2 separate regions of the Homo sapiens genome follow, and region 1 is linked to region 2. The links come from fine-mapping of genetic effects on gene expression. A gene starts in region 2. The other region holds a variant in brackets. All regions are shown on one strand. Distances are between the middles of the regions. Region 1 overlaps UBE2E1 (ubiquitin conjugating enzyme E2 E1). Region 2 holds the start of RPL15 (ribosomal protein L15).

Evidence for each region. PIP is the estimated chance that this variant, and not a neighbour inherited with it, causes the effect.
Region 1: its variant is the best candidate, but not a certain one, in a credible set for the expression of RPL15 in whole blood (INTERVAL, PIP 0.51).

The regions. Positions count from the first base shown.
Region 1 is chr3:23,850,022-23,852,930 of GRCh38, forward strand. The region is part of intron 3 of UBE2E1 (ubiquitin conjugating enzyme E2 E1); the gene reads left to right. Among named protein-coding and RNA genes, the nearest start is that of UBE2E1-AS1, 45 kb to the left of the region's middle. The variant T/C (reference allele first, on the strand shown) is at 1,804.
Region 2 is chr3:23,915,375-23,918,283 of GRCh38, forward strand. RPL15 (ribosomal protein L15) reads left to right here and starts at 1,758. Exons shown (of 4, transcript NM_002948.5): 1 at 1,758-1,799; 2 at 2,476-2,657. The coding sequence starts at 2,486. It overlaps NKIRAS1 (NFKB inhibitor interacting Ras like 1), which reads right to left and starts at 1,616. Exons shown (of 5, transcript NM_020345.4): 1 at 1,410-1,616. RefSeq lists enhancers at 1,220-2,019, 1,271-2,470, 2,400-2,499.

The sequences.
Region 1 (2,909 bases), 65 kb before region 2:
CTTTTTCATGTGATTATTGGGTATCTTCATTGGATCAAAATTGACATATTCTCATTGGAAAAATGTCTTTTAGATATTTTGCCTGTTTTATTAATAAAATTCAGGCTTTTTAATGGCTGAATTTTAAAAGTTCTTATTTATCTATCTAATATATCAATCTATTAAGACAAGGTTTCACTATATTGCCCAGGCTGGTATTGAACTCCTGGCCTCAAGTGATTCTCCTGCCTCAGCCTCCCAAAGTGCTGGGATTACACGTGTGAGCCACTGTGCCTGGCCATTAAAAATTATTTTTATTCCAGATAAAAGTACTTTATTAGATACATGATTTACAAGTGTTTTCTACCCTGTCTGTGGGTTGTCTTTTTATTTTCTTGATGGTATTGCTTGCAGTACAAAAGTTTGTGGTTTCAATGAAGTCCAGTTTACCTATTTTTCTTTTGTTGCATGTGTTTTGGAATTGTATTTAAGAAACCATTATCTACTCCTCTTTATTATTATTATTATTTTTTTTTGAGATAGGGTCTTGTTCAGTCACCAGAGCAGTGGTGCAATCCTAGCTCACTGCAGCCTCAAACTCCTGAGCTCAGGTGATGGTCCTGCCTCAGCCAAGTAGCTGGGACTACATGCATGCACCACTGCATCCGGCACACCTGATTGTTTTTTTTTTTTTTTTTTTTGAGATAGGGTCTCTTTCTGTCACCCATGCCAGAGCTGTGGCATGATCATGGCTGTCTGCAGCCTCAGGCTCAAGCAGTCCTCCCACCTCAGCCTCTCCAGTAGCAGGGACTACAGATGTGCGCCACCACACCCAGCTTTTTTTTTTTTTTTTTTTTTTTAAGAGACAGGGTTTTGCCGTGTTGCCCGTTGCCCAGATTGGTCTTGAATTCCTGGGCCCAAGCAGTTTACCTGCCTCAGCCTCCCAAAGTGCTGGGATTACAGGCATGAGCCACCATGCCCAGCCTATTCCTATATTTTCTTCTAAGAGTTTCATACTTTTAGTTTTTCGATTTGGATCAGTAATCCATTTTGAGTTAATTTTTGTGTGTGGTGTGAAGAAGGGTTCAGTTTCATTTTTTTGTTTGTGGCTATTCTTTTGTTCCCAACACCATTTGATAAAAAAGACTATTCTGTCTCCATTGAGCTGATTTGGCACTCTTGTCAAAAATCAATTTACCTGTAAATGTAAGAGTTTATTTCTGGGCTCTTAATTAGGTTCCATTGATCTTTGTATCTATCCTTTTGCTGGTACTACGATGTCTTAATTTCTGTGGCTTCATAGTAAGTTTTGAAATTGAGAAGGAAGTCCTCTAGCTTCGTTCTTTTTAAAGATTGTTTGGCTATTCTATGTTCCTTGCATTTCCATATGAATTTTAGGATCCGCTTGTCAATTTCTGTTTTTCATTTTGTTTTTTTTTAAACAGTCCAGCTGGGGTTTTTACAGGGTTTATGTTGAATCTGTACACCAGTTTGAGAAGTATTCCCATATTAATTTTAGGCTGGGTACAGTGGCTCATGCCTACTATATTCCCAGCACTTTGAGAGACCAAGGTGGAAAGATCACTTGAGGCCAGGAGTTTGAGATGAGCCTGATTAACAAAGTGAGACCCTCTTCTCTATAAAGAATAAAATAAGCCAGCCATGGTGGTGCACATCTGTAGTGCCAGCTAGTCAAGAGGCTGAGGTGGGAAGATCAGTTGAGCCCAGGAGTTCGAGGCTGCAGTGATTGCACCACTGCACTTCAGCCTGGGTGACAGAGACCCTGTCTCTAAAAAATAAAAAAAAAATTAAAATTCAGATCTG[T/C]ACAGTTTGGATGTTTGTCCCCTCCAAATCCTGTGTTGAAATGTGATCCCCAGCATTGGAGGTGGGGCCTGGTGGGAGGTGTTTGGGTCACAGGGACAGACCCTTCATGTATGGCTTGGTGCTGCTCTCACGGTAATGAGTGAGTTTTCACTTGCTTTGTTCATGCAAGATCTCATTGTTTAAACAATGTCTGGGACCTCCCCACTCTCTCATGCTCCCTTTCCTGTCATGTCACATGCCTGCTCTCCCTTCATCTTCTGCCATGAGTGGAAGCTTCCTGAGGCCTCACCAGAAGCAGATGCTGGCACTATGCTTCTTGTACAACCTGGAGAACCATGAGCTAAATAAACCTTTTTTCTTTATAAATTACCTAGCCTTAGATACTCCTTTATAGCAACACAAAATGGACTAACACATGATTCATGAACATTAAATGTCTTTTCAGTTATTTATATTTCCCTTAATTTATTTCAATGATGGTTTTTAGTCTGCAGTGTACATATTTTATGCTTATGTTAAATTTATTCTTATGTATTTTACTCAGATACTATTGTAAATTTGAATTTTTAAAAATTACATTTTCTGATTACTCACGGGTAGTATATAGCGATGGTTGGTTTTTGTGTATTAATTTTGTATCCTACAGCTTTGTTCAGCTTGTTTATTGGTCCTAAGAGCTTTTTAGTGGATTTGAGTTTTCTCTCTACAAGATCATGTCATCTGCAAATACAGATCGTGTTACTTCTTTTCCAATCTGAATACTTTTTATTTCTCTTTTTTCTTTTTTTGAGACAGGGTCTCACTTTGTCATCCAGACTGGAGTGCAGTGGTGCAATCTCAACTCAGTGCAGCCATGACCTTCTGGGCTCAAGCGATCCTCCCACCTCAGCCTCCCCAGTAGCTGGGACTTACAGGCACGTGCCACTGCACCCAGCACACCCAGCTAGGTTTTTGTATTTTTGTAGAGCAGGGGTCTCACCATGTTGCCCAGGCTGGTCACGAACTCCTGGGTTCAAGTGATCCTCCCACCTTGGCGTCCCAGAGTGCTAGGATTATGGGCATGAGCCACCATGCCCAGCCTTATTTTGTTTTGTTTTTTTTTTTGT
Region 2 (2,909 bases):
TAGCTTGGTGATATTTACAGATTTACAGACCTAGTCTGATGTACAAACTAAAAGACGGTAAATTTGTATTATTAACCAACAAAGTTGCTGAAATTTGTTACAGGAGCAATGGAAGACTAACACAATTTCCTAAGCAGTCTCTCTGCTTCCATTTTTTCTCTCCTTTTAGCCTCAAAAGGAGCAATCCGAGTTATCTTTTTAAAATGTACGCCATATGAAGTCATCCTTCTGTTCAAAATCTGCCAATGAAATCCAAAGTCCATGTGAGAACCTTCACCTCTCCGACGTCATTTCCCACTTTCCCCTACTGTGAATTTCAGCCACACTGCTTCCCTGCTGTTCCTCTATTAATCTTGCATGCTCCAGTCATGGCTCTTCTCCCTCTGCCTGAATCAGACCCCTACTCTTACTCCCAGACTCCTATCCTTGAAGTCCTTTCTTAAATGTTACCTTCTCTCAAAGACTTAACCTGGACACTCCATTCCAAATTGCAACCCTCAGCCGCTAACACTCCCTCATCACTTCCCTCCCCTTATCTTTTTTCCTTAGCATTTACCACCAAACCCAAAACACAGCTTACTTCTGCTTACTGCCCATTTCCAAGAAGGCCAAAAATTCTGCGTTGTTTCCTGCTGCATCCCCAGCAACTATGCCTGGCACATATTAGACACTTAATAAATATTTGTTGAATCAATCAATGAACCAGATAGAGACTCTTAAAAACGTAAAGCTGTGATTTAAAAAGAAAGAAAGAAAAATATGATGTGGGAAAAAAGATAATCAAAACCGCTACGATTAAGAGATAATGATTCTCTTAAGCCTTTGCCACATCTGAACGCATAATCTGGAAGGAAATTAAAGCCACATGACTTAAATTAAAGCCAAGTGAAAATATTCTGGAGAAACAAAGTAAGCCAGTAACCTATTTCTCAATTTAAAAAAAAACCCGCAACGCAAAATGCCAGCATTTTCTCGGCATTTCTTCTCTAAAACATTCACACCTGCCAAACAGGTCTTGGCAAATAAACATTCTGCTCTTCTGAAAAACTGTGGTTCTCATGTTAGCAAATTTGGGACGAAATCCGTATGCAGAAAAAGCGCCGGGCCGCCCGCAATCCACCCACTCCATGACCCTTTTTTAGGACAAAATCCCTGGGCGCTGGGGCCTGCTGGAGGAGCTTCACGCAGTCTGGAGCTGAAGGGACACAGCGAGCGCCCCGACCCGCGACGCCCCGACTCCGCGAAGGCCTCCCTGGGAGGCTGGGGAAGCGTCGGGGGATCTCTCAGCGCAGCTCTGGGGCCCAGATTTCTGCGCCCGTCGTGCGGTGGCCAGAGAGGGACAGCGCAGCGCGGAGACGCGGAGACGCAGAGACTCCGCAGGGGGAGAGCCCGCGGTGCGTGAAACAAACCTGTTCTCTCCTCAGACCTCAAAGACAGCGGCTCCACCGCGGTACGCGGCCACCGGCTTTGGAGCCTGGACCCCAACTTGCCTCCTCTCGCGGAGAGACAGTCGCCGACGCTCGCTTAGCCGCCGAGACCTCGCCGCCAACTCTCTCACCTCTCGAGACGCCCAGGCCGCTCAGGCTCGAATCTTGCGGAGCAGGGGGCGGGACAATAGCGGCCGCGGCGCCCCACTCGGCAGAACTCCGCCACCAGGCGCGATGCCGGAACTACATGTCCCATGACGCTCTGGGAGGCCGCAGCTTTCCACCGGAAAGAGGGTGGCTGAGGTGGGGGAGGAGCCCAAAAGGCATTGTGGGAGTACAGCTCTTTCCTTTCCGTCTGGCGGCAGCCATCAGGTAGGCTGCGTTGAGGATCTTTGCTCTTCCATCCGCCTTTGATCGTCTTCCTCTTCAGCCATCCAGGTCCGGGGACCCTGCGTCCTCGGAGATAGGTCTCCCTCCTGTGCGGCCAGAGTTTGGTCAGGATGCGGGACAGCAAAGGGGTGGAGAGGCGGCCCCCGGGGCGGGTTGAGCGAAGATGTGATGGCGGCGCGAATTCGAGCTGGGCCCGGATCCTGGAGGAGGCGTGGGGCTGACGAATGGGGCGCCCGGGACAAGGCAGCCTAAAGTGAGGCTGCTGGTTGGGTGGGGTAGATGCATTTTCCTCGAGAGTTAATCCTCGGTGGCCGCAGCAGTACCTTGTCCTGTGATGTCAGCGGCATCTCCTTTCAGGTCCTCCTTGGGGACGCCGCCTGCCGCAGCCACCCGCCCCCTTGGTGCTCAGTTCTGGTTCTGTTAATTCGCCCCACCAAAACGTGCCGAGCACCGCTCTGTGCTGGGGTTGCGGAAGTGACTGAACGCGGCTCCGTGGGCGCAGTGGTGGGGGTTGGGCTAGCTGTCCCCGGCAGTTGGTGCAGAGCCATTTTCATTCCCGGCGGTTTCCTTGTTTTTGTTGGGGAACTAAGATGGACGGATACAGTCGTCTTATTGTACTTAAAGCGGATGATATTTAATACACAGTTTGATTTCACAGGTAAGCCAAGATGGGTGCATACAAGTACATCCAGGAGCTATGGAGAAAGAAGCAGTCTGATGTCATGCGCTTTCTTCTGAGGGTCCGCTGCTGGCAGTACCGCCAGCTCTCTGCTCTCCACAGGGCTCCCCGCCCCACCCGGCCTGATAAAGCGCGCCGACTGGGCTACAAGGCCAAGCAAGGTACGTGATCGACTGCGTGGATGCTTGGATAAAATTATATTCGAGAAAAGTTGGAAACCAGCTGTTAGGAAGACACTGCTGCCTCAGTGTCTTTCTTCGCATAGGGCTTTGGCAGAAAAAAGCTAGCAACACTGGTCAGTTACTGTATGCACTGTTGTCTAAAGTGGCAAGTGTGTCAAAGGTTACAAATCTGAATGAGTTCAGACTAAAGCAAAATAAACAGTGTGCCTCCCTGTGTGAGTAGCCTAAGGT